Linked DNA regions of Homo sapiens: regions 1, 2, 3, 4, 6 and 7 are each linked to region 5. The links come from fine-mapping of genetic effects on gene expression. A gene starts in region 5. Each other region holds a variant in brackets. All regions are shown on one strand. Distances are from middle to middle. Region 1 has its middle 31 kb from the start of PRKX. Region 2 has its middle 18 kb from the start of ARSD-AS1. Region 3 overlaps PRKX (protein kinase cAMP-dependent X-linked catalytic subunit). Region 4 has its middle 24 kb from the start of PRKX. Region 5 holds the start of PRKX (protein kinase cAMP-dependent X-linked catalytic subunit). Region 6 overlaps PRKX (protein kinase cAMP-dependent X-linked catalytic subunit). Region 7 has its middle 26 kb from the start of TRI-GAT1-1.

Evidence for each region.
Region 1: its variant is fine-mapped to the expression of PRKX in blood mononuclear cells (TOPMed, PIP above 0.99). The same link has a PIP of 0.9 or more in T cells and whole blood.
Region 2: its variant is fine-mapped to the expression of PRKX in thyroid (GTEx, PIP 0.98).
Region 3: its variant is fine-mapped to the expression of PRKX in whole blood (TOPMed, PIP 0.98).
Region 4: its variant is fine-mapped to the expression of PRKX in lung (TOPMed, PIP 0.99).
Region 6: its variant is fine-mapped to the expression of PRKX in whole blood (TOPMed, PIP above 0.99). The same link has a PIP of 0.9 or more in monocytes.
Region 7: its variant is fine-mapped to the expression of PRKX in whole blood (TOPMed, PIP 0.91).

The regions. Positions count from the first base shown.
Region 1 is chrX:3,742,178-3,746,461 of GRCh38, reverse strand. No RefSeq gene overlaps it. Among named protein-coding and RNA genes, the nearest start is that of PRKX, 31 kb to the right of the region's middle. The variant G/A (reference allele first, on the strand shown) is at 2,439.
Region 2 is chrX:2,885,023-2,889,282 of GRCh38, reverse strand. No RefSeq gene overlaps it. Among named protein-coding and RNA genes, the nearest start is that of ARSD-AS1, 18 kb to the left of the region's middle. The variant A/C (reference allele first, on the strand shown) is at 1,769.
Region 3 is chrX:3,632,292-3,636,575 of GRCh38, reverse strand. All of the region lies in intron 4 of PRKX (protein kinase cAMP-dependent X-linked catalytic subunit), which reads left to right. Among named protein-coding and RNA genes, the nearest start is that of PRKX-AS1, 25 kb to the left of the region's middle. The variant G/A (reference allele first, on the strand shown) is at 2,456.
Region 4 is chrX:3,735,497-3,739,780 of GRCh38, reverse strand. No RefSeq gene overlaps it. Among named protein-coding and RNA genes, the nearest start is that of PRKX, 24 kb to the right of the region's middle. The variant T/G (reference allele first, on the strand shown) is at 2,262.
Region 5 is chrX:3,711,546-3,715,829 of GRCh38, reverse strand. PRKX (protein kinase cAMP-dependent X-linked catalytic subunit) reads left to right here and starts at 2,181. Exons shown (of 9, transcript NM_005044.5): 1 at 2,181-2,742. The coding sequence starts at 2,577. RefSeq lists enhancers at 269-916, 3,248-3,557, 3,958-4,087 and silencers at 1,878-2,607, 2,628-2,757, 2,798-3,077.
Region 6 is chrX:3,677,222-3,681,505 of GRCh38, reverse strand. The region is part of intron 1 of PRKX (protein kinase cAMP-dependent X-linked catalytic subunit); the gene reads left to right. Among named protein-coding and RNA genes, the nearest start is that of PRKX-AS1, 20 kb to the right of the region's middle. The variant A/G (reference allele first, on the strand shown) is at 2,295.
Region 7 is chrX:3,810,345-3,814,628 of GRCh38, reverse strand. No RefSeq gene overlaps it. Among named protein-coding and RNA genes, the nearest start is that of TRI-GAT1-1, 26 kb to the left of the region's middle. RefSeq lists silencers at 1-70, 2,856-2,925. The variant A/G (reference allele first, on the strand shown) is at 2,431.

The DNA of each region.
Region 1 (4,284 bases), 31 kb before region 5:
GCCTGGGAGGTCAAGGCTGCAGTGAGACATGATTGCACCATTGCACTCCAGCCTCGGCAACAGAGCAAGACCCTGTCTCAAGAAAAAGAGAAAAAATATCATTCTCATTTCAAGCCATTTATCCCCTCTTTTCTCACACATAGAAGCAAGCTTGGTTTCATTTCTCTAATTTTCGATGTAGCATGTTTAAGCAGTAGGAGAGATACCTGGACCTCTAGATGCTAATTAACATTGGCATTGATGAGACACGTCTGCCTACTTAATGAACACGTTCTGATCGCTCCTGTTTTGAGGCAGTATGCTGAGAGTCAGAAATAAAAAGGCTGAGGGAAACATTATATTCTCCTTTCCAGATGATATAGTCTAATGGGAAATGCAGGTTTATGAACAAATAACCAGGACTTACTGTTAGACATAGTACATAGCACATAGCAAATTTAACAAAATAGTTTATCTTTGCTGTGTGTTTGTGTGTGTGTGTGTGTGTGTGTGTGCACGCGCGCATGGGTGTCTGTCTCTCTTTTTCCCCCTCAGCAGACAAAAGACGAGGATGACCTTTAGAAGGCTTGGAGGCAGATGGATGCTGCGGTGTGAATGTGTGTGACCCCCAAAATTCCTATGTTGAAATGCTAACCCCCAAAGTCATGAGGTTAGGAGGTGGGACCTTTGGGAGGTGCTGATGTCATGAGGGTGGGGCCTCATGAATGGGATCAGTGCCCTTAGAAAAGGGACCCCAGAAAGCTCCCTCACCCTTTCCACCATGTGAGGACACAGTGAGAAGGTGCCATCTATGAACCAGGAAGCCCTCACCAGACACTGAATCTGCCACACCTTGCTCCTGGACCTCCAGCCTCCAGAACCATGAGCAATAAACATCTGTTGTCTACAAGCCTCCCAGCCCAAATGGACTAGGACTCTAAGCTAGCAGTAACTGTCATGGCAGGCAGGACGGAGATGGAGGCAATGAACTCATGGCAATACACAGGACAACCCAACAAGAAGTCCCAGAAATCTTAACCATCTCAGGAATGGGAGACAGCAGGTGGCTCTCAAGGTGCAGACACAGGCGGGGCTGGAGACAGGAGCTTTGCACAGCAGTGCTTGTCAGAAGAATTCTCCTCCTACTCCTTGCAGCCAGATGAACACATCTCGACAACTTGGACAAACTTACTTGTAATTTTAACCAGTGATGAATAAGCAAAGATCTAGATTCATGGACGCCGGAGAGAGCTGAGAGTAAAGGTGAGATAATGTGCCAGAAAAAATAAGATTAAGAAAAAGTCTGACACTCCCAAATATGTACCCCAAAGAAATAAAAGCAGTGAGATGCAAAACAGTACATACGCACTCATGTTCATAGCAGGGACTGAGTAGCACACTACAGTGTTCACTACACCAGGGATGCTCTCTCTCTACATATATGTTTTTGTTTTTTTTTGAGACAGGGTCTCACTCTGTTGCTCAGGCTGAAATATAGTAGCACGATCACAGGTCACCGCAGCGTCAACCCCCCAGGTTCAAGCAATCCTCCTACCACTCACTCCCAAATAGCTGAGACTACAGGTGTGCTGCACCGTACCTGGCTATTTTTTGTATGTTTTTTAGAGACAAGGTTTCACTATGTTACCCAGGCTGGTCTCAAACGTCTGAGCTCAAACAATCTGCCCACCTTGGTCCCTCAAAGTGCTGGGATTACAGGCATGAGCCACCGCACCCAGCCCATGTTCTATCTTTTATTTATTTATTTATTTATTTGAGACTGAGTCTCACTCTATGGCCCCAGCTGGAGTGCACTGGCATGATCTCAGCACATGGCAACCTCTGCCTCCTGGGTTCAAGCGATTCTCATGCCTCAGCCTCCCGAGTAGCTGGGATTACAGGCGTACACCACCACACCTGGTTAACTTTTGTATTTTTGGTAGAGATGGGGTTTCACCATGTTGGCCAGGATGGTCTCGAACTCCTGACCTCAAGTGATCCACCCGCCCCAGCCTCCCAAAGTGCTGGGATTACAGGCGTGAGCCACTGTGCCCAGCCTATTTATTTATTTACCTTTTATTTTAGGTTTGGGTGTACATGGAAAGGTTTGTTAATCAGTAAACATGTGTCACAGGGGTTTGCTGTACAGATTATTTCATCACCCAGGTACTAAGCCCAGCACCCAATGGTGATCTTTTCTCTCCTCTCCCTCCTCCCACCCGCCCCGCTCAAGTAGACCCCAGCGTCTGTTGTTTCTTTCTTTGTGTTCATGAGTTCTTGTCATTTAGCTCCCAGCTCTATATTTTTCACCAACGGAACCAGAAAGCTTTTCTGAGTAATTAATTGCATGATGACCTCAGCAATATCTAAGAAAAATGATTCTGGAAGCTGTGGTGGGGGGTGGGGTTGACGCTTTAAAGAGAAAGCTACAGGAAGGGTATGGCAAGTCTGTGGTCATG[G/A]GCTGAAGTAGTCCTGGGCAGGAGATGAATGACAGAGATAGACAGGAAAGTCTCCACCATGATGGTGCTGATAAAAGCAAAGTCAAGAGGATGTGGTGACCGATTCTGCATTGTAAAAAACAAGAGGAAGATAAAGATGACGTCCAAATTAGTGCCTGAGAGGACTAAACAGAATATGTACGTAAGAGATATATATATATATATATATATATATATATATAGATAGATAGAGAGAGAGAGAGAGAGAGAGAGAAAGTGTGAAAGAGAGAACGAAGACGATTAGATTGGGGGGTGGTGTAGAAATGAATTCACTTTTTATTACTTTTACTCTATAAAATGCATTTTAGACTCTGAAATTTTACAAGGAAATAGTAAGAATTAAGGAAGTCTTTAAAGTGCCACTTGAAAATCATGTTATATTGCAAGTACTACACTGGCTTTAATATTCAAGACTCTCATTTCTTTTTTTTTTTTTTTTTTTTTTGAGACAGAGTCTCACTCTGTCGCCCAGGCTGGAATGCAGTGGCCCAATCTCAGCTCACTGCAACCCCTGCCTCCCAGGTTCAAGCAATTCTCCTGCCTCAGGCTCTACCTCAGATTACAGGCATGCGCCACCACGCCTGGCTAATTTTTGTATTTTTAGTAGAGATGGGGTTTCACCATATTGGTCAGGCTGGTAAGACTCTCATTTTTTTTTTTTTTTTTTTTTGAGATGCGGTCTCACCCTGTAGCACAGGCTGGAGTGCAGTGGCTGGATCATGGGTCACTGCAGCCTTTAGCCCCCTGCTCAAGAGATCTTCCCACCTCCATCTCCCGAGTAGCTGGGACCACAGGCACATGCCACCATGCCCAGCTCGTTTTTGTATTTTTTTGTAGAAATCGGGTCTCACTATGTTGCCCAGGCTGGTCTCAAACTCCCGGGCTCGAGCAGTCATCTCACCTTAGCCTCCTAAATTTCTGGGATTATAGACATCAGCCACCGTGTCCAGCTAAGACTCTCATTTCTTACCAAGACCTGATAGTATGTCTTATTTGGGTTATTAGTTGAATTTTAGGTTATTTCATTAAGTACATGAAAATAATTAAAATGGATGACCAGGTGCAGTGGCTCACATCTGTAATCTCAGCACTTTGGGAGGCTGAAGTGGGTACATTGCTTGAGCCTAGGAGTTCAAGATCAGCCTGGGCAATATAGCAAGACCCCATTTCTACAAAAATATTTTTTAAATAGCCAGGTGTGGTGGTGCATGCCTGTAGTCCCAGCTACTCAGGAGGCTGAAGTGGGAGGACCATCTGTGCCCAGGAGACAGAGGCTGCATTGAGCCGTGATGGCACCACCGCACTCCAGCCTGGGTGACAGAGTGAGACCCTGTCTCAAAAATAAATAAAATAAATGGACTCATAAAATAAGTTGTTTTCATTCTTAAAAGGACAAGATATTTTAAAATAGCTTCACATGACATGAAGTCCACTTGTCTTCTTGAGTAGAGAAAGTTAACACCTTTGAGGGATGTCCACTGGTATCTAGGATGTGTTGCGTCACAAAACAGGGTGGGAAAATGTAAACAAAAACAAAAACAAAAAAACAAGCTGGTTCTCAACAGTCCTACCACTGACTGTAATTTTGAGGTTATTTTCTTCATGGATATCTTTGTTCCTGGTCTGTTCCAGTTCTGAAATTCTGATTGACTTCTTGACGCAATCACATGACATCAAAATTGCTGAAAAAGTCCCATCACTACAGTGTGAGTAAATCAGCTGGTAGAATTATTTTCTTTTCCTTTCACTCATGGGTGAGTATATCGTATTTTGTACAGTTCAAGAATAATAGAACGAACACCTACAT
Region 2 (4,260 bases), 830 kb after region 5:
AACTCCCAGGATCAAGGTTAGACTCCCTCGCTCTCGCTCTCTTTGACCTTCAGGCATGCACTTGCATCTCTTCCAGGAGTACCTTCCTTTCCTCCTGTTCTAAGGCTTTTTAAAATAAACTTCCACTCCTGCTTTGAAACTTGCCTTGGTCTCTTTTTCTGCCTTACGCCCTCAGTCAAATTCTTTCTTCCAAGGAGGCAAGTATTGAAATTGCCGCAGACCCCTACAGATTCGCCACTGGTAACTCAGGGTAACTCGGATCTCCCCACTGCTATCAGGCACAGAGTTTCAGTTTTGCAAGATGAAAAAGTTTTGGAGACCCATGCACAGCAATGTGATTAGACTTAACTCTACTGAACTCTTAACTCTACTCCCCCCCTTTTTTAAATTTTGGTATTTTTTTTGTAGAGACGAGGTTTCATCATGTTGCACAGGCTCATCTCCATCTCCTGAGCTCAAGAGATCCACTCACCGTGGCCTCCCAAAGTGCTGAGATTACAGGCATGAGCCACCGCAGCTGGCCTGAACTGTACTCTTGAAAATGGTTAAGATAATAAATTTAATGTTTTGTGTTTGCACTACAATAAAACATAGAGAGACCCCAGTTTATGTTGCTTCAACTCTTGCCTCCTTTTCCTATATTTTTCTCTTCCGTTTTCTCCTCTCCTCCCTTTTTGTTACCCCCACTTTCCCCTGAACCTTGACATATTGCAAAGCCTTGCAAAATAAACTGTTCTGAGAGTTGCTGAAAAGGGATTGCACCCATAATACCATGAAAGAGGTATTGAAACCACAGCAACGACAGTCTCCAATGGACACGATGCCAGGTTTTGCAACAGCTGAAGATGAAGAAAAGTGTAATTTGTTTTTTGGTTTTTGTTTTTTTTTTTGAAACAGAGTCTTGCTCTGTTGCGCAGGCTGGAGTGCAGTGACACGATCTCGGCTTACTGCAACCTCCGCCTCCAAGGTTCAAGCGATTCTCCTGCCTCAGCCTCCTAAATAGCTGGGATTACAGGAGCACACCACCACGCCTGGCTAGGTTTCATATTTTTAGTAGAGATGGGGTTTTGCCATGTTGTCAGGTTGGTCTCGAACTCCTGACCTGAAGTGATCCACCCGCCTCGGCCCTTCAAAGTGCTGGGATTACCAGCGAGAACCACTGCGCCTGGCCAGAAAAGTGAAATTTGGGCCAGTCCTCAAAAACATGTACCCCTCTCTCCTCATCTTACAAAACTCAGATCCTGCTGTGCCACAGTGAATCAATTATCTGTGCACAGGGGCCGTCTGGTGAGGATCTGCTGAATAAAAGCCCTTAGCTGTATTCAAGTCATTTCTTTTCCTTGACCACCTGTTCAAGCAGAATTAATGAACAGGCGTCTACCATGTTTACTAATATTTCTAAGTTTTTTTTTTTTTGAGACAGGGTCTTGCTCTGTTGCGTAGGCTGGCTAAATTTGTAAACGTCATACACAGTCATAAACATTTTTTATCTTAATGGTAATTTTTTCTTCTTCTTCTTTTTTTGAGACATAGTCTCACTATATCACCCAAGCTGGAGTGCAGTGGCGTGATCTTGGCTCACTGCAGCCTCCACCTCCTGGGCTCAAGCAATATAATTTTTAAAACCCAAGTTATTGGCAGTATCTCTAAAGATCTCAATAAGGCCAGGGACGATGGCTCACACCTGTAATCCCAGCACTTTGGGAGGTAGAGGTGGGCAGATCGCTTGAGTCCAGGAGTTCGAGACCAGCCTGGGCAACATGGCGAA[A/C]TCTGTCTCTACTGAAAAAAAAAAAAAAAAATTACCTGCGCATGGTGGTGCAAGTCTGTCGTCCCAGGTACTAGGGGGACTGAGGCAAGAGGATGACTTGAGCCTGGGAGGTCAAGACTGCTGTGAGCCCTGACGGTGCCGCTGCACTCCAGCCTAAGCAACACGGTAAGACCCTGTCTCAAAAACAAGATTTCAATCGGATGTTGACAATGAGAGCAGCAGCTCATGCTTTCATGCTTAATTGTTCCCACAGACTGTGCTAAGAGCTTTATGTTTATTGTCTCGTTTTATCCTCAGAAAATTCCCATGAGCATGTGGTATTGTAATCCCTCTTTTATAGATAAGGAGAGAAGATGTGGGGCTTAGCGTTCATTTGTTACAAAGATGTTTTTAAACTACTGGCTGCGTTTCCCTGAGGAGGTGTGAAGTCAATTTAGAACATAAAAATTGGCTTGTTCTTAAAAATAAGACCTTGGAGAAATGCCTGGCCCCAGGTGTGAGGGGAGAAAATCTATGATGGTTCTGGAGAATCTCATTTTGCCAGGAAGCAAGGAAGTGATCAAAGACTAATGGGGGCCAGGTGCGGTGGCTCACACCTGGAATCCCAGCACTCTGGGAGGCCAAGGCAGGCAGATCACTTGAGGCCAGGAGTTGGAGACCAGCCTGACCAACATGGCGAAACCCCGTCTCTACTAAAAACACAAAAATTAGCCAGGCGTGGTGGCACGCGCCTATAATCCCAGCTACTCGGGAGGCTGAGGCAGGAGAATCACTTGAACCCGGGAGGTGGAGGTTGCAGTGAGTTGAGATCGTGCCACTGCACTCCAGCCTGGGTGACAGAGCGAGACTCTGTCTCAAACAAAAATAAATAAAAATTTAAAAAGACTAATGGGATTAGTTCATAGACTTAAGAATCCATCTAAAGTGAGGAGAGTCCCACTGGTAAATCTGGTACAATTTGAGCCAGACATGGTGGCTCTTGCCTGTAGTCCCAGCCACCTGGGAGGCTGAGATGGGAGGATCAGTTGAACCCAGGAGGTTGAGACAGCAGTGAGCTATATGATCATGCCACTGCACTCCAGCCTGGGCAACAGAGTAAGACCCTGTGTCGTTTAAAAAAAAAAAAAAAAAGGAACAGTTTAAACATTAAAAAAATAATAAATTGGACTGTTTTACACGTTGAACAATCAAAACATAGTAGTGATAGTCAAGAGGAGTGTGCTAGGGAGGGAAAGAGAAACAGAAAAGCTCTTTTGTGCAGCTGAGTGTTGGGCCATGAATGCTGCAATAATGACAGACTCACAGAGCATCAGCATTTAGCAACTATGCAATGGAATCCAGACAAGCATCCTCAAGGCATGCTACAATCCCGTGTAAAGTATATTCTTGCACAGTACATGTCACATACTAGGTATAGCTGGATTTGCACGAATGTGCTTCCAACAGATATTGTCTGTGCCAATAAAAACTTCATTTTGTTTCTTAGGATGATGGATAGAGCAGGGATAGAAGACATCAAGTTTGTAAACCTATGCAACTCATTTGATCTATTAAAAAAAATGGGGGCCAGGCACAGTGGTTCATGCCTGTAATCCTCAGTACTTTGGGAGGCCAAAGCAGGAGGAATGCTTGAGGCCAGGAGTTGGAGACCAGCCTGGGCCACATAGTGAGACTCCTATGAGACCCTGCCTCTACAAAGTTTAAAAAAATTAGCTGGGTGTGGTGGCACATGCCTGTAATCCCAGTTACTTGAGAGGCTGAGGTGGGAGGATCACCTGAGCCCTGGAGTTGGAGGCTGCAGGAAGCGGTGATCGGGCCACTGCACTCCAGCTTGGACAAGAGTGAGACTCCGTGTCAAAAAAATAAAAATAAAAAATAATAAAATAATTAAAATAGATGATTTAATTATTTTATTTTTCTTTCTTTTTTTTTTTTTTTTTGAGACAGAGTCTCACTCTGTTGTCTAGGCTGGAGTGCAGTGGTGTGATCTCAGCTCACTGCAACCTCCACCTCCTGGGTTCAAGTGATTCTCCTGCCTCAGCCTCCTGAGTAGCTGGGATTACAGGCATGCACAACCATGCCTGACAAATTTTTGTATTCTTGGTAGAGACGGGGTTTCACCATGTTGGCCAGGCTGGTCTTGAACTCCTGACCTCAGGCGATCTGCCCGCCTTGGCCTCCCAAAGTACCAGGTACAGGTGTGAGTCACTGTAATCGGCCAAAGATACATAAATAAATAATTTTTAAAATGGTACTGTACACTAAAGAGCAGAGGCCTATGAAACCAGAAAGAATTGCTCTGCTTTTCCTAATTCAAGGGTGGTGGTCAGAAAGAAACCCCTTTCTGCTTCAAACTACAGTTCCACCCCAAAACGCGTTAACACTAGGACCTGTTTCGTGCTTCCAAGCATCAGCCAAAGGTTTTGGCAGGATTCGACCAAGTGGCTTTGAGGAACAAAAATACTATAACTTATTCCTGTGGATCTGTAGGC
Region 3 (4,284 bases), 79 kb after region 5:
GGCTGGCCCTTTCTCTTCCACTGCACATGCTGCAGGCTCACCTGTCACCTGCTCCCACAGCCCTCTGGGGCCTCCCCTGTTCTCCTGGGCCATGCCCTGTCCGACCAGCCCATCTGTTTTCTTTATACTGATTAGCAGCTCTGAAACCATCTAAATTTTGTATGTGTTGACTGCCTCTGAGAGCAATGCTCCCAAGCTGCTCTCCTCACCTCCTTGAACCCAGAAACTTCTGGTGGCTGGAGGGAGGGCACTGCTGCACATACAAGTGGAGCCGGCCTGCAGTCAGAGTCTTCCTGCTCCCTTCGCAGCCTGTGTCTGCACCTTTCCTATCGCAGCTCCATTTGCTGGATTCCCACTCTTAGCAGGATCAAGTGAGACTGTGCCTTGTCTGTGTTATTGCTTTAAGTGATTATCTCAATCTTCCACTAAGCACAGGGAAAACCATCTATTTGGTAAAATCTGCCATGTGATTAGGAAGGAGATCATATCATGATGCAGATTTTATTTTCATGGAATGAGACATGTTTAGGTCAGATGAAAATTGTGTGGCACATTCTGGAACAAAATCACTCATGCACTTTCCAAGGACCCAAGCTCAGCTCCGATTTCTTCCATCCTATTCTCTTTCCTCATCCATTTCTGTGGTTTTATTCTCCCAGAGAGTTTAACTCAAGAGTCAGGTAAAGGCTGGACGTGGTGGTTCATGCCTGTCATCCCAGCACTTTGGGAGGCTGAGACAGAAGAACTGCTTAAGCCCAAGAGTTCAAGACCAGCCTGGGCAACATAGTGGGACCCCATCTCTACAAAAAATAAAAATAAAACTAGCTGGGTGTGGTTGTATGTTCCTGTAGTCCCAGCTACTCAGGAGGCTGAGGTGGGAGGATTGCTTCAGCCCAGGAAGTCGAGGCTGCAGTGAGCTGAGATTGCACCAGTGCACATCAGCTTGGGTAACAGAGCAAGACACTGTCTCAGAAAAAGAAAAAAAAAAATCAGCTAAAGCATCAAGAACAAAACACAGGGACACACAAGACATACAGCAGAGTGCAGGGTAAGAGAAAGCCCCTGGGCCATCTTGTCTTAGTTGTGACAGCAGTGATTCTCAAAGTGGCATCCCAGAGGACTATGGGGTTCCCGAAGTGTGTTTCAGCAGATGAGTGAGATCATTTTTCCAATGACAGATCTGAATAGTGATGAATTTTCTTCATAGGTGTCAACTAAGACAATACAGCATAGCAGACAGGGTGCAGAAGATCCTAGAGAAGGTGGAATTTGGCTGCAGTGGAGCCTCTTCCACGGGGAGCATTAGGCATTGCGCAGTGGTTCTCAAACATGTTGGCCTCGGGAACCCTTCAACACACAGCTCAAAGTTATTAACAACCCACAGAACTTTCATTTCTGTGTGTTACAGCTGTCCGCGCTGACTACATTTGAAATTAAAGTAGAGACTGAAATATAAACCAACAGAATACATAAATAATATATATGAGAAGTTAAATAATCAGAGGAGAACATAAATAGCATTTTTAAATGAAAAAAATGTGTAACCACACTTTCTAGAATTAAAACCATTCAGGCTGGACATGGTGGCTCACGCCTGTAATCCTAGCACTTCAGGAGGCTGAGGTGGGAGGATCACTTGAGCCCAGGAGTTGGAGGCCAGCCTGGGCAACATAGTGAGACCCCATTTCTACAAAAAATAAAATGAAATAAATAAACCAATTAGCTGAGCATGATGGTACACGCCCAGGGTCCCAGTACTTTGGGAGGCTGAGGTGGGAGGATCACTGAGGCTGGGAGGTCAACGCTGCGGTGAGCTGTGGTCTCGTCACTACACTCCAGCCTGGGTGACAGAGAGACCCTGTCTCTAAAAAGAGAGAAAACATTTGTGAGGAGGTTGGCTGTATTTTCTGGGTTTTGTGAATCTCTTTAGTGTCCAGCTTTCACAAGGGCTGCTGGCCTCTCCTCCCTCTGTCTGCAGCCTGTCTGCTGTGCTGCGTGGCACGTTGTTTAGTTGAGGCATAGGAGAAAATTCATCACTATTCTGAACTGGAGTCAGAAAAACGATCTCAGCCATCCCTAAACTGAGGTCGGGAAGCCACCCTGGGACTCCACTTTGAGGGCCACTGCTGTGATGCCCAAGTCAACGTGCCCGGGGCTATATTTTCACCCTCTACTCTGCCCCAACCCTCACACACCCCAGTGCCTGCTCCTTCCGCTTTAACTGGCCCTCAAGTTCCCCTTTCTCATCTCCCACCTCAGCCTCCCTGATTCATCTGAGGAGCACAGATTTTATATTTATTTATTAATTATTATTATTTTTTTTCTTTAGAGGGACCCCTGCTCTGTCACCCAGGCTGGAGTGTAGTGGCGCGATCTCGGCTCACTGCAACCTCTGTCTCCTGGGTTCAAGCAATTCTCCTGCCTCAGCCTGCCGAGTAGCTGGGGTTACAGGTGC[G/A]TGCCACCGTGCCTGGCTAATTTTTGTATTTTTAGTAGAGATGGGGTTTCGCCATGTTGGCCAGCCTGCTCTCAAACTCCTGACCTCGAGTGATTAACCTGCCTCAGCCTCACAAAGTGCTGAGATTACAGGTGTGAGCCACCACGCCTGGCCTAAATTTTAGTTTTTAATCTGAAGGTATCGGGACAAGGATTTTTGAGGAAGAAGTCAAGGTGGGATGAAATTCTAGTGAAATTCTAGTGACGGCTTTCTTCTTTTCTCTAAAAACCTCTGCCTTCCTTTTCTTGAATGCATTTCCAAAGCACCTGTCTTCCAAGGCCAGCCCCGGTCCTCAGAACTGGAGCAGGTAGTGTGTCAGCTGATAGTTTAGGAGGGTGTTTTTCCAGCTGAGTAGGAGGGAGAACATCAGCTCACAGCGCCCAGGGTATCTCTGCCTGCACCATCCACTTTACTGGAAGATGTAAATAGGCGGAATGGTTACATTCAAATTTTACTGGCAAATGATAGAGCTAGTGGCACAATTGGTGTAAATTTTTTTCATTTTTCTTTTTTTGTTTTTGCAGACAGTTTTGCTCTGTTGCCCAGTCAGGAGTGCAGTGGTGCAGTCACAGCTCACTGCAGCCTGGACCTCCTGGGCTCAAGCAAACCCCCACCTCCGCCTCTTGAGTAGCTGGGATGACAGGTACACGTCACTGTACCTGGCTAATTTTTTAAAATTTTTTTGTAGAGATAGGGTCTTGCTATGTTACCCAGGCTGATTTCAAATTCCTAGGCTCAAGTGATCCACCTGCCTCGGCCTCCCAAAGTGCTGGGATGACAGCCGTGAGCCACTGCATGAGCGTTTTTTTTGTTTTTTTTTTTTTTCTTTTGAGACAGGGTCTTGTTCTGTGTCCAGATTGGAATGCAGTGGTGCAGTCATAGCTTACTGAAGCCTCGACCTCCTGGGCTCAAGCGATCCTCCTGCCTCAGCCTCCTGGGACTACAGAGGCTGTAGCTGGGGACCGCAGAGGCTGTAGCTGGGAACACAGGCACACACCAGCACGTCCAGATAATTTTTAAATTTTTTGTAGAGACGAGGTCTCACTGTGTTGTCCAGGCTGGTCTTGAACTCCTGGGCTCAAGCAGTCCTCCCGCGTTGGCCTCCCCAAATGCTGGGATGACAGGCATGAGCCACTGTGCCTAGCCTGGGCATGAATTTTTCAGGCGAAAATCTGGAGCTTGCATTCATGCTGATTAGCAGATTGTCCTTGCAAGTGTAGCTGTCACCACAGATCAATTTAACTTGCTTAATAATGCCAAATGCCATATAATGAGAATTTATTCTCCACTTGGTAAGAATTGGAAGCAGTCTGTATGTTTAGAGACAGAAATTTGAGGGTTTCAGAGGGCACTGCCCAGGCGTCCGGGGGAGTGCTGTTTCTCAGACACACACACACACTGTCTCTGCTTTTTCTTTCAGGCAAGATCATCAGTTAGTGCTCACTTATTATTTATCTTTTTCCGCTTATTAATACCTTTCCCATGATCTTATGTAATGTCTACTGTCCAAGAGCACTTCGTTTAATATTCTCCATAAATGTTTTTAGGTATGTATGGCACATTTCCTCCTGGAGTTTAATGCTCCATTCCTGTATTTGTGCATTATTCACACAGCTGAGTCGCCACCCAAACCCAGAGAGAAACAGGAATACAACTCCCCCAACTACTGTTACAGAGAACGCTGCGGGCAGGTGAGGGAGGACGGGCTCGGGAGGTTGTTAACGTCTGAGGCGGCAGGGTTGGCGCAGATCGCATGAGTGTCTGTACTCAGAGCTCTGCTTCCCAGCCTG
Region 4 (4,284 bases), 24 kb before region 5:
CCAAGTTTTGACAATTATAAATAAGGCTGTTGTAAACATCCATGTGCAGGTTTTCGCGTGGACACAAGTTTTCAATTCTTTTGGGTAACCATTGAGAGTGATTGCTGGATCATATGCCAGGACATATTTAGTTTTGTAAGAAACAGCCAAACTGTCTTCCAAAGTGACTGTACCATTTTGCATTCCCACCAGCCATGAATGGTCATTCCTGTTGCTCCACGACCTCATCAGCTTTTGGTGATGTCAGTGTTCTGGCTTTTGGCCATTCTCACAGATGTGTATTGGTATCTCATTGTTGTTTTAATTTGCATTTCCCCACTTTGCTTGTTTCCAATCTCTATATAATCATAATGACATTGTATGGAGTTTTTTTCAAGCTATTTCCTTCACCATTGTTTCAAGAATTACACCACTGAAGTAGGTAGCTGTGTTTCTGTTGTTCTTTGCTGCATATTGTTCCATGATCTGAATATCCCACATTTTTTTAAACATCATGAACATTTGGATTGTTTCTCATTGATATGGTTTGGCTGTGTCTCCACTCAAATCTCATCTTGAATTGTAGCTCCCATAATTCCCACATGTTGTGGGAGGGACCCGATGGGAGATAATTGAATCATGGAGGCAGTTTCCCCCATACCGTTCTCATCGTAATGAATAAGTCTCAAGAGATCTCATGGTTTTATAAGGAAAAAGCCTTTCACTTGGCTCTCATTCTCTCTTGCTTGCCACCATATATGACGTGCCTTTTGCCTTCTGCCAAGATTGTGAGGCCTCCCCAACCATGTGGAACTGTGAGTCCATTAAACCTCTTTTTCTTTATAAATTACCCAGTCTTAGGCATGTCTTTATCTGCAATGTGGAAATGGACTAATACACCCATCTTGTAATACTATAAGCAATGACATCATAAGCAATTTAATTTCATGTATATTTCCTATTACACATTTGTACAAGATTTTCTATGGTAAGAAACCAGAGTGGAACTGCTGTGTCATTGGCACATCCTCATCTTTACTAAGTAATTCTACATGGTTTTTCAAAGCAGCAGTAATATTTTCCACATCTACCAGCAGAGTATACATATTCCAGTGCATCTCTGTCTGCTCAGCTTTGGTACTGGGAGATAGCAACTGTGGTTTTAACTTTCCTTCCCTGACTACTACTGAAGCTGAGCAGCTTTCATTTGTTTATTTGTAATTTAGATTTCCTCTTCTGAATGTTCTTCCTTGACTTGTTCTTGATTTTTTTTTTTTTTTTTGAGACAGGTCTCACTCTCTCACCCAGGCTAGAGTGCAGTGGCATGATCATAGCTCACTGTAGCCTCGACCTCCCAAGTTCAAGCAATCCTCCCACCTCAGCCTTTCAAGTAGCTGGGACTTCAGGTATAAGCCACCACACCCAGCTAATTTTTGTATTTTTTGTAGAGATGGGGCCTCACTATGTTGCCCAGGTTGGTCTCAAACCCCTAGGCTCAAGCAACCCACCCACCTCAGCCTCCCAAAGTGCTGGGATTACAAGCGTGAGCCACCACACCCAACTTGTTCTTGACTTTAAGGAGACCACTTTTAATATCCCACTCTTTAGTATGACATACATTTTTCCGTAGAAAGCTTTTATCAGATTAAGGAAGTTTGTATTTATTCCTAGTTTGTTAAATCCTGAATGGGTGTTCAGTTTTATCACAGCTACTTTCTGTATCAATTGATACAAGAAATATTTTGTTTCCATTTTGTTTTCTTTTCTCCTTTAATCTGTAAATATTTAAAGTACAATCATAGATTGTCTATTGTTGAAACTTGCCTAACATTTGTACCTCACAAAGAGTGAGATTGGTCTATAATTTCTTTTCCCATGCTTTCTTTGTTGAGTTTGCTGAGTTTGAATATCAAAATATTCTTGGCCTCAAAATAGTTTGCATATGTTGCTTCTTTGTGTTTTGTCTGCTGGAGCTTAAATAATACTTGAATTTACTGCTGCCTGATAATACCAGTTAGGTCTAGCATTTTCTTAGTGAGAAGCTTTTTAACCACTCATTCAATGTATTAAATTTCTACAATACCATTTGGATATTCTATATCTACTTGAGTCAGTTTGGTTAAATATATTGTTCTATGAATGTGTCCATTGTGTACGAAGTTTTTAAACACATTGCGATAGTTATTCCTAATATCATCTTATTTTTTTTATAAACTCTGCTACATCTGGAGTTATATTTCTTTTTTCTTCATAATGTTATTCATTGGCATATTCTGTTTTTT[T/G]TGTGTGTATGATGGAGCTTTGCTCTTGTTGCCCAGGCTAGAGTGCAATGGCGTGACCTCTGCTCACTGCAACCTCCACCTCCTGGGTTCAAGTGATTCTCCTGCCTCAGCCTCCTGAGAAGCTGGGATTAGGTGCCTGCCACCACGCCGGGCTAATTTTTTTCTATTTTTAGTAGAGACAGGGTTTCACCATTTTGGCCAGACTGGTCTTTTTATCTGCAATCTTACCAGATTTTATTCATTCTACTCTTTTTATTGTAGTTTATTTTTAACTTGATTATAAATTAAAATTTGATTTAAAGTAAAATGAAGTTTATTAAAATTAAATGTTAATAAAAAATAAAAAGCTAATTGTATTTAAAATACATAAAATAAAAAAACTAGTTAATGTACTACAAATAAGTAATTAAATATAATTCAACTAATTTTATTTAAATGAACATTTAAAAGAAGCAATTAAATGCTTAAATGCTTTTTAACACTTAAAAGAGGCGATTCTACTAAAATTAATTTCACTAAAATTAAAAAGATTTCTAACTTCAGCTACTTCCATCTTCTCTCATTTTCTTCTCTAATTTGTGAATTCTACTGGTTTTCACTTATTTCCTTCTACTGTTCTGGGTAATTCTGCTGTTCCTTTTCTAACTTCTTGAGTGGGACGCTTAGCATACTTTTCTGTGCCATTTCTTCTCCTTTAGGATAAGCGTGTTACTGAAGTTTTCAAGTACCTCTAGTGACGCATCCGCTGCATCCCGCGGCTTCTGAGCTGCGCATTTGAGTTCCAAGGAGTCATGAAGGCAGCTTGAAAACGTTTTCTTGGGAAACCGAAACTGTCTGTGTCAATGCAATGGGCGCTGGGCGTAAAAGAGAAAACTTCTCCATGTGGGAAGGCTACTCTGTTCTCCTCCATTCTCTGCAGTGAATTTGGAAAGAACTGACATTTTGTCTACTTTTAGGAAAGTATCCATGCACTGGAGAGCTGGAAGCAAGAGCGAGATGCCCCCAGATCCTAAACAGGGAATCCAGCCATTTGCTGAAGACAAAAACAGGCACGTGGAAATGAGTCCCTTTGACCCTGTACTCAAAGTATCTCCAACCACATGGGTAAAAGACCAAACATGGCACAAACAGTCCCATGTGGGAAGACCGCCCCAAGGGGCAGAAGTCACCAGGCCTGCATTTTTGCACGTGGTTTAGACTATTCTCTGACTGTTCCCCCTGCATCCCAGGCTCTTCTGCGCAGAGGAGGGGGTGCATGGCCTGTGCTGGCTTGGAGGAGGAGGGGGCTGGGGCAGAGAGCCCTGGGGAAGGGCTATAGGCAGAGAACATCAACTCAAAGGTGGTAGGTACCCAGGTCTGCTCTCCCCGAGGGAGAGAAGTGGGAGGGTCTTGCCAGCCTGAGAACACACCGGCTTTGTCTTTTTGGCAGAACAAAGACTTCTTTCGGAGAAGACTGACTGAGTGGCCTAATTCCTTCTCATCTGTGTGTGCAGCTGGCCCTCAATATCCTCAGGGAGTTGGTTCTCGGACTTCCACTGATATCAAAATCCAAGGATGCTCAAGCCCCTTGTAGCAAACGATGCAGTATCTGCATATCACCCAGGCATATCCTCCCATACACTTTAAGCCATCTCTACTTATAATACCTAATACAGTGTAATTGTTTTGTCAATTGTTGAGACACAGTATCATTTTTCTGTTTGTTTATTTAGAGACAGGGTCTCACTGTCACCCAGGCTGGAGTGCAGTGACACCATCATAGCTCACTGCAGCCTCCAACTCGTGGACTCAAATGATCCTCCCCACTCAGCCTCCTGAGTAGCTGGGACTACAGCCACACATCACTACTTGTAGCTAATTTTTTTAAATTTAATTTTTGTACAGACAGGGTCTCACTATGTTCTCATGCCTCAGCTTCCCAAGCACCTGGGATTGCAGGTGTGTGCCACCATGCCTGGCTAATTTTTTTTGTGCGTGTATATTTTTAGTAGAGATGGGGTTTTGCTATGTTGGCCAGGCTGGC
Region 5 (4,284 bases):
TCAGGGACTTATTCCTTCCGAATGGCAGAGTTCAGCAATTCCTGACTCCACCGCAAATTAATGCCACTTCATTAAGGCGGTAATGACCCTTCCATGCCTAACTCACAGGGATTTTCCTTTTTTGTCTCTCAAGTAATAGGCTGTGGTTTCTCAAGGATTTTTATGATCCTTCCAGATGAAAGCTGTTTTGTCAAGCAAGGTGTTGTGAAACGTGCAGGGTCTATTTATAAGAAGAGGTAGCTATGCGGTCAAGTTCAGGGTGGGTTCGGTGGAATCAGACCAACCAGCAGCTCAAGCAGAGTTTAACGCTGCAAATCTGTGCCACGTTCTTCTTCCTGCGTGCAATTTGCAGGCAAGGACATCTGCTTAATTGGGTGTGAAACCCGGGCCTTGATTAAAAGGACTTTATGAGGCCGCAGCCTTGCATTTCCAAGGTCAGGCCCTAGTGGAGAGGGCGCGCGTTCCGCGGGGAGACACGAACTTTTCCTGAGTGCGCGTTCCTTGCTGGCCCTGAACCCCTCGGCCAGGCAGGGCTTGGCAGGGCCGTTTCCTGTCCTAACCAGGATCAAGGGATTGCGCGGCTTGCTGGTGAAGCTTGGCAGGGCCGTGACCTGTCCTAACCAGGCTCAGGGGATGGCAGGGGCCTGCTGGTGTCGCATATGTTTTGCATTCCAGCTCAGGATTTTGCAGAGCATAGGGAGCGGGTGTCACCCCCGGGGGGAAATGCCACCCACAAAATGCAGGTGGAGGCTGGGCGAGGCTGGCAGCCAGGGGCCAGAAATCCAAAGCCTGAGCCAGGTTCAGACTTCCTGACTCCCCCTCCCCGTTAGCTGTGGAAGGATGGCTCGGCCTGGTCCCCCTAAAAATGTGTCCGTTCTGACTTAGAGGCCGCTTTGGCTCTCGGAAAGCCCCCCTGACCTGCGGACTGAGGGACTGGAGACCCCCTCCAATCGCAGAATCGCTGAGATCCCTCAAAACAAAGGCGTTTGCAGTTTGACCCCTTGCTGCTCAAACTGTGGTCGGCGAACCGGCAGCCTGGGCCGCCCTGGTCGCGGGTCAGGGGCGCAGCGTCCAGGCCGTGCCAGGCCCGCAAGTTAAGCACTGTCTGCATTTCCCTGGGGAAAGGGGTGACCAAATATCTAGCTATATTTGCATTTCAAATCCACACGGATATGGGTTTTAAATATAAGTATGTCCAACTATTGCCTGAGCCACACTTAAGCCAGGAAAAAAAAATCTTTGGGGTTTCTGAAATTGAAATGCCTCTGCACAATTCTTTATAGGGTTGTCGCCGGGGTGTTTGAAACAGTGACCAATCAAGTTTCACGCACTACATTTGGTCGGGCGATCTCTCAAATCTGTCTTTCCCTAGTTTTTTAAAGGAATGTTTATTTGTAAAGAATTCTAGATCCACAGGAAGCTGCAAAGAAACGCACAGGGTCGAGCCCGCCCTTCCCCGCCCCTTCCAAGTAGAAATCTAGAATCACCAGAGTCCTACAGCAAAACCAGGACGCTGAACTCATCCCGAAGACCCGGCAGCCCCTCTTGGGGATCCGCCCTCATTCCAAATTCTCTCAGGTCCCAAACAAGCACCCGCAGGAGTACTGAACTTTTTGGGGGGAGGGCAGAGGGGATCTGTATGCAGATTGCCAGCTGAGCAATCCTATTTTCTATGACTTAAAGCCAATCAGAGGCTGGGCGTGGTGGCTTATACCTGTAGTCCCAGCACTTTGGGAGAACGAGGCAGGCGGTTCACTTGTGCTCAGGAGTTCCAGACCAGCCTGGCCAACATGGTGAAACCCTGTCTCTACTGAGAAAATACAAAAATTAGCCGGGCTAATCCGAGCCCCTCTCTTCACCAAACGCCAGTTTCACTTTTTAGTTTTGAACTTCACTTCTGCTGAGCTACGCCCTCCCTGTCCCCGGGCCCCCTCGCCTCCCCATCTTCCGGGCTTGGGTGCAGCGACGCGGGTGGCCCGCCAGTGCGTCCCCGAGGAGAAGTCAGCCTGGGTCCCACCCCAGGGGTGCCCCGGGCGCGGAGGGGGCGTGGGCACCTCCCCAGCGCCGCACGCCCGGGTCTCCGGCTCCTGGGCTGGGTCGGGGCGGGGGCGGAGCGCGCGCGAAGGCGACGCCCCCAGCCCCGCGGCCGGGTTAGGGCGGGGAGAGGCGCGGTCACGCCCAGGCGGCTTCCGCCCGCCCCAACAGCGCGCACGCGGCTACCGAGCTGGAGGAGGCGGCGGGCGCGAGACCCGGAATGCGCAGGGCCCCCGCCTCGCCCCCCCCAGCCCGGGCCGCGGCCCCCGCCTTCCCCGCAGTCGTCCCGCACTCGGTGCCCGCCCCCCGAGGCCGGCGGCTGCTCCCACTCGGGGCCGTTGCTGCTTGTGCCGTGAGCGCCGCCCAGCCATTGTCCCCGTCGCTCCGTCAGCCGCGCCGGACCGCGCACCAGGAGGCGAGAGCGCGCATGGGGAGCCTCTGTTGATGCCGCCGCCGCGCCGCCCTCCGAGGCTGCGTCCCGGGAAGCCCGGCTCCCCGAGCGCTCCGGCCTGGCCCGGTGCCCCGGACCTGAGTGCGTCCCCATGGAGGCGCCCGGGCTGGCCCAGGCGGCCGCGGCGGAGAGCGACTCCCGCAAGGTGGCGGAGGAGACCCCCGACGGGGCGCCCGCGCTCTGCCCCAGCCCTGAGGCGCTGTCGCCGGAGCCGCCTGTGTACAGCCTGCAGGACTTTGACACGCTGGCCACCGTGGGTGAGTGAGTGCGGGCGGGGACTCGGCCCACAGGGGCGCGCGGCGTGGCCGGGACGTTGTAGTAGGACAAAGGGCCCTGGGTGCCGACCTCCTGGGGAGGGCCCTGACCCGCTACTTCGGCTCGGAGTCCCCGTGCGGGGCTGCACCTGCGCCCCGGGTCTTCCCGGGTGGAGCGCACTCCCCAGCCCCCCAGCCCAGGCAAGTACCCCCGACCGGCCGGGTGCCTAACCTGAAATGCCGACGGCTCCTCTCGGAGACCACCCTCCACCCCCAGCACACACAGCACTCTGGGGCCTGGGCCGTCCGACGTCACAAAACCTCCTGCGGGTCACCTCGCCTGGGGGACCTCGTGCTCCCTCCCTGGCAGCGGCCCCAGGGACACTGGCGCGGGGTGCGAAGACCCCTGCAGGCCTCCCCTAGGCCAGCCTCCCTGTGTGCCCAGAGGCAGGGAATGTACAGATTTCTCCAGGGGCTGCAGGAGCAGCTGGGCTGTGGGGGACAGGTGTCCCGGGGCGCTGTGGGGACGAGGACGGCAGCGCTGGGGACGGATCCTAACATGTCCTGACACCGCCTGTGCTCTTCGTCTTGTGCCTCTGAAATGGGTAATTCTTGTATCGGACGCTTTATCCGTTTCCTTTGTCCTCTGTCTTTGAACTTAACCCCGAATGGGCAGCTTGACAGAGAGGTTTCGAGTTCTCGGTGCTCTTGCATCCGGACACGCGCTGCTTTATGGAGCAGCCCTGAGTGGGTCAGAATATCCCAACTGAACGTGGGCGCTGGATTTAAACAGTTGTCATCGGCCCGCCTGTGCCACTTAGGGACTCCGTATGGCTAAGTGGGGTGTTGGCTGTCAAGAAAATAAATGGGAGAGTAGAGGGGGCTGTCCTGGGTGTGTTGGTGAGGCGTCGGCTCTCAGGCCCTCTAACTCCTGTTTGTCCTCATTTTGGAAAGGAGGAAGCTGGGCTGGGAAGCCCAAGGGCTCGAGGCCATAGCTTATGACTTAGGAAGACCAGCGGGCATAGCCAGTGGGGCCTTTAGAACCGCTGAGGAAGAGGGGACTTAGCTTCCTTCAGTGACCTCTTTGCCACTTAGACCTTGAGGAAGGGCCCACGAGGAAAGCCTGAATTTGGAAGGACAGAGTGGGAGGAGGCCCTCTCTCTTTCTCCTCTCCCTCCCTCCTCCTCTTTATCTCATTCTCTCTCTCTTTTCTCTGTTTCTCTTCTCTCTCCCTCTTTCTGTCTCTGTTCAAGTCTCTCTGCATTTCTCCTCCTCTGTCTCTTGGTGTCTCTCTCCCTGTCCCCTTCCGGTCTTGGTTTTTCTGTCTCCCTCCCTCCTCTCTCTCTGCCTTCCCCCTTGTCTTGGTCCCCCCGGAAAGCTGTCCTGGTCTAATCTTAGAGCTGGGTGTGTTTTGCGCGGAAGAAGGGTGGGGCAGGAACCCTGACTGGCGCAGCCGCCACAGTAGGTGGAAATACAACTCGACAATGGAAAATTGATGAGGTCCAGCCGTTCCTTGGCACTCAGCACCAGCGTTTGTCATTCTTT
Region 6 (4,284 bases), 34 kb after region 5:
TTTTTTTGTATTTTTAGTAGAGGCTGGGGTCTCACTGTGTTGTCCAGGCTGATCTCAAACTCCTGGGCTCAAGCGATCCTCCCATGTTGGCCTCCCAAAGCACTGGGATTACAGGTGTGAGCTACTGTGCCCGGCCTATTTCTTTTCTAAATAGAGGCAGGGTCTCACTATGTTGCCCTGGCTGGTCTCAACCTCCTGGGCTCAAGCAATCCTCCTGCTTCGGCCTCTTGAGCAGTTGGGACTCCAGGTGCACACAACCATGCCTGGCTAATTTTTGTATTTTTTCGTAGAGATAGGGATCTCACCATGTTGCCCAGGCTGGTCGGGAATTCCTGGGCTCAAGCAGTCCTCTGACCTCAGCCTTCCAGTGTGCTGGGATTACAGGTGTGCACCACTGTGCCTGGCCTTATTTATTTTTTATTTATTTATTTTTGGAGACAGGGTTTCATTCTGTTGCCCAGACTGCAGTGCGGTGGCAACCATAGCTCACTGCAGCCTCCACCTCCTGGGCTCAAGTGATCCTCCCACTTCAGCCTCCCCAGTAGCTGGGACTGCAGGAGTGCATCATGACTCCTGGCTAATTTCTTTTAATAGGGATGAGATCTCTATGTTTTTGTAGACAAGGGGCTCTCGCTGTGTTGCCCAAGCTGGTCGAGAACTCCTGGCCTGAAGCCATCCTCTTGCCTTGGCCTCCCAAAGTGCTGGGATTACAGTTGCGAGCTACGGTGCCTGGCTGTAGATTCCCCCCAGCCCCCAAGCCGCCAGTTGTGAGTCTTCACTAACAAGGGAACCTTTCAGCATTTTCCATGGTCATGGTGATTCACCTAATATTTTAGTTCTGCTGAGTTGTCTAAACATTCGGGATAAAGGCTGTCATTTTTTGGTGACCGTAATGTGTATGTGTATGTTTACAGTTACACATGCCTGTATTTGGGTGGAGCTCAGAAGATGCCCATGGCATTTTTCTGGGAAAGTTGAAGTTTATGATGTTTGCTCTTTATTGGGAGTGTGGAGGTCGTCTTTCTCCTTCTTCCCATCCCTCCAGACAGAAAGCTGGGATGTGGCCAGGTGCAGTGGCTCATGCCTGTACTCCTAGCACTTTGGGAGGCCGAGGTGGGTGGATCACTTGAGGTCAGGAGTTTGAGACCAGCCTGGCCAACATGGTGAAACCCTGTCACTACTAAAAATACAAAAATTAGCCAGGCGGGGTGGCGGGCACCGGTAATCCCAGCTACTTTGGAGGCTGAGGCAGGAGAATCGCTTGAACCCAGGAGGCAGAGGTTGCAGTGAACTGAGATTGCGCCATTGCACTCCAGCCTGGGCGACAGAGTGAGACTCTGTAACAACAACAACAACAACAACAACAACAACAACAGGCCAGGATGTGTTTGTGTGTGAGTTGGACCCAAGGGCTTGGGAAGGATGGATAGGGTAGGGGAGGAGGGATAGATGGATGAGGGAATGCAGAGAGAGTGGCCACACTGTCAGAGGCTTTCAAAAAGCAGGAGGTTCTCCAGTGGGAGAGAGGAGACCTGAGTCCACCCCGCATTAATGTTTACAGATCAGAATTGCACACATAGAATGGCTCATAAATCTGATCCACCTTCCTCGTCTGGCACTTGGCTGGAGAAACAACTCTTTGAATGTTGGAGGAAAAGCCCACTGTATTGCACCTGCTATAAAAAGGGCGTGCCCACCTTAAAAGTAGCCACACCTTCCCGAGATTGCCATGGTCCTTCTAAGTCTCTGAAATGTATAGATCAGGTATATTTGGGAATTTGGGGATTTTTCTAAATTTGGGATGAGAATGGGTGCATGTCCTTTTTAATTATACAACACCCTCAGCAGAGTCTGGGCTGGATGTTGTTATCAAGACAAGAATATTTCTGTAGTGAAATAGGTAGATATTCACCCCAAGGAGGATCAAGCCTGAACAGTCTCACGTTAGGCAAGGTCCAGTTTTGCGGCCAGGTGTGTTGATGAAGACACTTTGAGTATTCAGAGCCTTTAGCTTTAGCCACTGTGGGTAAGGGATTGTAGAACCCATACTTAAGCTTTCCCCTTAAAGCTTTGACTTTAATCTCCACATTGCAGCCCTGCAAAAGAACAGAATCGTGTCCTTTGCAGCAAAGTGGATGCAGCTGGAGGCTGCTATCCTAAACAAATTCATGCAAAAAATCGAGAGCCAGATATTGCATGTTCTCACTTATAAGTGGGATCTAAACACTGAGTACTTCATGGACACAAAGATGGGAACAATAAACACTGGGGATTCCAAAAAGAGGAAGGGAGGG[A/G]GTGGGGAAAAGACTGAAAAACTTCCTATTAGAAACTGTTTACTACTTGGGCAACGGGATCATTAGAAGCCGAAACCTCAGCATCATGCAATATACCCATGTAATGAACCTGCACATGGACCCCCTGAATCTAAAATTAAAAGAAAAGACATAAACTCCACATCTGATTTCCCTCGTGCATAACACTACTACTTAGCTTGGAGAGAGATGGAGGGGATCTCTAGGGTGGGGAATGGACCACTTACCTTCAAGATCTCCCTTATCAGGAAGGAAAGAGCTGACCTGCCTAGAAACACTTGAAAACACTCTTTTTTTATGTCTTATTGGGCAAAGCTGGGTCAGATGGCCACCCTTAGCTGCAGAGAAGGCTACAAATAGACATTTTCTCCTCAAGTGGGATAATGATAACTGGGGAATGTGTACTGGAGAGCCTTCCAACACCAAGCGGGGAAGATCTACCAGCACCATTAAATGTTGCCTTTGTCTTCTGTGCACTTAAGCTGATAAACCTTAAACATTACAGCATGCCACTTCTGTCTGCTTTGAGTAAGGTTGTTTACCGACATACTTCTGCAGTCTGATTGTGGCGTTGGCGGGACTGACAATATCTCCCAGGGTAGCGCAAAGATCCGCTGCAGTGCATAAGTAACGTGTTTTGAGTTTTGTATGTTTATAATGCACACAGCTCAGAGAAAGCTTTAAAGAAGTCACAGAAGTGTAAAAAATCTGTTGAGTCATAGCTGTTGTTCTTAAAGTAGGCATGGAGAATTCTCTCTGTTGAGGGTCAAATACAAGTACTAAGACAGAATGTTATGCAGTAAACACAGCCAAGTAATGAATGGGTTCCTTGGGGTGGGTGATAGAGAAAGATAAATAAGGAGGAAGGAACCAGATAGAGGAAGAAAAGTCAAGGACCATATTCATTGCATTATTAGAATTTTAGGGTGTGGCAAGAATTTAATGTTTCCTAATAATATGCAAGTTCTGTTGGAAAGAAGAGCAACAGGAGACTAAAAGGTTAAAAGGTTACTCTGTTGCCCATTTCATAGGTCCAATGGCAGGATAAGCTTGGGTTGGATGCCAGTGTTCCTGATTCCTAATTGTGTTTTATCCAATTGAAACATCAGTGGCCATAGTCAAACACCTAAACTGTATCAGTTCACAGTCCTCAAAGCCCTTCTCCCACTTCCTGTCTTTGACCTGATTCCACCTAATTTTGTCCACACCATGTTGTACTGTAATAAAACCTATTTTATTTCCAAATTAACTAAGAGAATATACTTTAAAAATGTGTTACTATTTCATTATTTGTTTACTTTTTTTAAAGAAATATTTAACACCTGTCAGCTATTGACATTGTTTCCTTCTTACACTTTTTCTTTATCTTGTAGTTCACTTTCTATTTCTGCCATAATAAAATATTCAGTATCGGAAACTTCACTTAAAAAGCAAAGGTTACTTCTCCTCCTCCCTTCCCAGTCTGCCCTATAAGCTAGTAAATTCATCATTCATTAGCTTAGATATTTTACAACATGGGGATTTTAGTTTACAGCAAATACTCTAAGTAAAATTGGTAGCTTAAGTACAACTTTTTCTTTTCACGTTACCATGTGCAATCAATGGCATTCCAGACTCTTGGAAGGAAATCCATTGTATGGTTGTGGTCTTTTTTTTTCCTTCTCAAACCAGTCAAAAATACCCAGTCACAATTTAAAAAATTATCCGCCCTTGGTGGTGCACGCCTGTAGTCCCAACTATTTGGGCTGAGGTGGGAGGGTCACTTGAGCCTGGCAGGTCAAGGCTGCAGTGAGCTATTGATTGTGCCATTGCACTTCAGCCTGGGCAACAGAGAGAGACCCTGTCTCAAAAAAAAAAAAAAAAAAAGACAAAACAATATAATGTGATCTACCCTCTAAGCAAATTTTCATATATACAATTTTACTATTGTATATGTGAGCTATTTATATATAAAATTTCATTTATCAGTTCA
Region 7 (4,284 bases), 99 kb before region 5:
GAGAGCCCTGTGCCTTGCGCTCAGAGGCTGAGCTGCGTGAGGGAGGCCAAGCCCCCGCGAGCGGCAGCCCCTGCCTTGCTAGTTCCCCAACACGCGAAAAAGGTAGATGAGAACTGGTGCGGGGATAGGTTTGGGTGGGGTTTACTTGGCACCACCCAATTTCTAAATCGGTCATATTTTCTGAGTAGTTCTACCAACAAAGGTCAAGCTGGAGCCAAGTGCTGTAATCCCAGCACTTTGGGAGGCCCAGGCGAGAGGATACATTGAGGCCAAGAGTTCGAGACCAGCCTGGGCAACATAGCAAGACTGTCTCTACAAAGTTTTTGATTTTTTTTTTCTTTTTTTTTTTTTTTGAGACGGAGTCTCCCTCTATCACCCAGGCTGGAGTGCAGTGGCACAATCTCGGCTCACTGCAACCTCTGCCTCCCGGGTTCAAGCGATTCTCCTGCCTCAGCCTCCCGAGTACCTGGGACTACAGGCGCCCTCTACCACGCCTGGTTAATTTTTGTATATATAGCAGAGACGGGGTTTCACCATGTTGGCCAGGCTGGTCTTTAACTCCTGACCTCAGTGATCTGCCTGCCTCGGCCTCCCAAAGTTCTGGGATTACAGGCATGAGCCACCGCACCCAGCCGCAAAAAGTTTTAAAATTACCTGGGCATGGTGGTGCGTGCTGGTAGACCCGACTACTTGGGAGACTGAGACGGGAGGATTGCTTGAGGCCAGGAATTTGAGACCAGCCTGGGCAACATAAGGAGACTCTGTATCTAGAAAACATATATATATTAGCTAGGTGTAGTGGTGTACGCCTGTGGTCCCAGCCACTCAGGAGGCTGAGGTAGGAGGATCGCTTGAGCCCAGGAGGTCCAGGATGCAGTGAGCTATGATCGCACCACTGCACTCTTTGCTGGGCCAGAGCGAGACCCTGTCTTCAAGAAAATAAAAGGATACAGCCACACACAGAGGGATGACCATGTGAGGACACAGGGAGGATCGCTTCAGCCTGGGAAGTGGAGGCTGCAGTGAGCTATGATCACGCCACTGCACTTCCCAGGCTCAAGCGATCCTCCCGCCTCAGCCCCCCGAGTAGGTGGGGCCACAGGTTTGTGCCACCATTCCGGGCTAATTATTTGTAGAAATGAAGACTTCCTATGGTGCTCAGGCTGGTCTTAAACTCCTGAGCTCCCGTGATCCTCCTGCCTTGGCCTCCCAAAGTGCTGGTACTATAGGCATGAGCAACTATGCCTGGACCAATTCTTAACTGGTGACTTGACTTGTTTATTAGTTAATCTGTCTCACTCAGCTTCCTTCAAATGCTGAGCCTCCGTCCTCTTGCTAAGCTCTTTTAAGAACGTTGTGTACCATGTCAACCTGTTCTAAATATTTGAGGAGAGAAAGTTCTAGAATTCACGTCCCCACCAACTTTCTTTTTTTCTTTAAAAAAAAAATTTTAAGAGACATGGTCTTGCTCTGTTGCCTGGGCTGGAGTGTGGTGGTGCAATCATAGCTCACTGTAGCCTTGACCTCCTGGGCTCAGGTGATCCTCCTACCTCAGTCTCCCAAGTAGCTGGGACCACAAGCATGCATAACCACACCCAGCCAATTTTTGTTTGTTTACTTTTTGTAGCAGAGAGGTCTCGATCTCCTGGCTTCACATGATCCTCCCGCCTCAGCCTCCCAAAGCACTAGTATTACAGGCATGAGCCACCGTGTGTGGCCACCACTGACTTTCTGAACCCCAAGTGTATTAGCCACCATAACAAACACCTTTTGTCTGATACATTCTGTGGATCATATTCCTTTTTTATATATAATTTTACCTTTTATTTTAGATTTGAGTGGTACAGGTACAGGTTTGTTTCATGGGTATATCATGTGACACTGAGGTTTGGAATGCAGATGATCCCATCACCCAGGTACTGAGCATAGCACCCCACAGGTAGTGTTTCAGCCCTGGCCCCTCCATCTCTCCACCCTCTAGTATTCCCTAGTATCTACTGTTCCCAACTTTGTGTGCATGTATAGATTATGTTTCTTAGAGTTCTCTAAATAACGGGGCAGGGAAGGTAGTGTGAATGATGTAAAGGTGTGCCAAATTGGTTCTGCAAAATTAACCTTTTTTGAATAAAATATTCAATTTTCTGAAGCGAGCAGGCTACTTTCTCAAGCAAAATTTCGTTTGAATCCTCCACCCCCAGCCTGCAGAGAGAGAGGGAGGGAGGGAGACCTCTTAAGAGTTTTATTTGTTCTCTTGCAGTCTTATGACTTACTTCTTAATGAAAACCCTTATTGTTTTCTAAGAGAAAAAAAAAGAGAATGAATGCAATGTTCGAAATGGGATTATGTAGAATTTTTAGGAGCATAAAGAGAAATTGAAGAATTATGAAAACAAAGGCCAGAAAAGCAAACAGTGTTCTTCCTCTACGTAGC[A/G]GCCAGATGGCGTTTTAGGCAAATACACCGCAAACTGCACAGCCAGGTCCCCATCTCAAAGGGCTTTCCACGGAGCAAAAGCAGTTTCGATCGTATTGTCATCACCACCATCAACTTTTTTTTTCCACTCACATGATGTATGCCAATATCATTATTCTCGTTATTTGTATAACCATCATCATCATCAATGTCTCGTGAATTTTTGCGTGTTATTTTTAACATAGCATGTAAACAGCACCTCCCCACAAAAAAAACTAGCTCAGGATAAACATCTCTAAGAGTATTTCATAGGAGCTGATAGTTTGACCAACAAAAAAATGTTTTCTTTTCCCAAAATAAAGTTCTGTGGTTTGTCTCAGGGAAAGTTTTTTGTTTGTTTATTTGTTGGATTTTTGGTTTGGTTTGGTTTTGTCTCATTTGTGGGTTTGGTGGTTGGTGGTTGAGTTTGTTTCTGGCTTAAAGGGCACCCTTAATGAAGAAGTGTTTATGTTTTCAGATATGTAGGCTTTAGTAAACTAGCTCACTCTGAGAAATCTAAAGTTTCAATTGCTCTGTGAACACCACTGAAAGAATCCACCTCCCTTCTCAAACCACATTCTCAAGGGCAGACTTGGGGATGCTAGAACTCTCCTCCCCTCTCCCCTCCCCCTCTCGCCTCCCCTCCTCCCCTCCCGAGGCTCTGCTGCCCAACCTCCGCCTCCCAGGTTCAAGCCATTCTCCCTGCCTCAGCGTCCTCAGTAGCTGGGATTACAGGCGCCCACCACAATGCCCAGCTAATTTTTGTATTTTTAGTAGAGATGCAGTTTTGCCATGTTGGCCAGGCTGGTCTCGAACTCCTGACCTTAGGTGATCCACCCACCTTGGCCTCCCAAAGTGCTGGGATTATAGGCGTGAGCCACTGTGCCCAGCCTAGAACCATTTTCAACAACAAAAGAGTCAACACATTCGGCCTCCCAAAGTGCTGGGATCATAGGCGTGAGCCCCTGTGCCCAGCCTAGAACCATTTTCAACAACAGAAGACTCAACACATTCAGCCTCCCAGAGTGCTGGGATTATAGGCGTGAGCCACTGTGCCCAGCCTAGAACCATTTTCAACAACAAAAGACTCAACACATTCATGCTTCCATGCAACATGGCAAGTCCACTTCGAGATGGTGCCTTTATTTACCTTTGATTATTCTTCACCATACACCCATCTTACTTTGTGGAGTCTTCACAATAATGAACCACCCAAGACTCATATGGCCAGAACTGAAACCTGAGACTGTCAACGAGAACAAAGTGTCCCGATACTTATTTCTGCTTGGACTGTTATTCAAGATATTCAATATATTCAATAAATATTCAGTATTCAACAAAATATTCAATGCTGTTCAAAATACTCAATAACAGTTACAGGAACTGTCCAAGGAGAAGGACCCTGGTCTCAATGGCAAGATAATGTCCTGGGTCAGGCATTGCCAGCGTGAACCATGAGATTGGGAGTCCCAGTCTGGGGTGTGGCATCCAGAGAGCTTAGGTCTGGGACAGAGGCTGTTTGACCTACCACTGCAGAGGTGTGGCCATATTTTAAGCCCAAGAATGTCCCAAGAAATATTGTAAAGCCAAGAATTGTGTACATACCGGCTGATCAGCCTTGTTTCTGCTCAAAGCCATCTTATGAGTGTTTGGTAGTAGAATCCTCCATTCAAACAATCTAACCCAAAACAAATGGAGACATTGAATGATTCCAAGTCAACAACTGGCTCTCGATTTCAGGGGAAAAAATGGCCATATTTCAACTCATTCTGAGCATATCCTTTTAAGGTAGAGAAAGAGGCAGAAAAAAATAGTATGTACTTCCTGACACAGCAA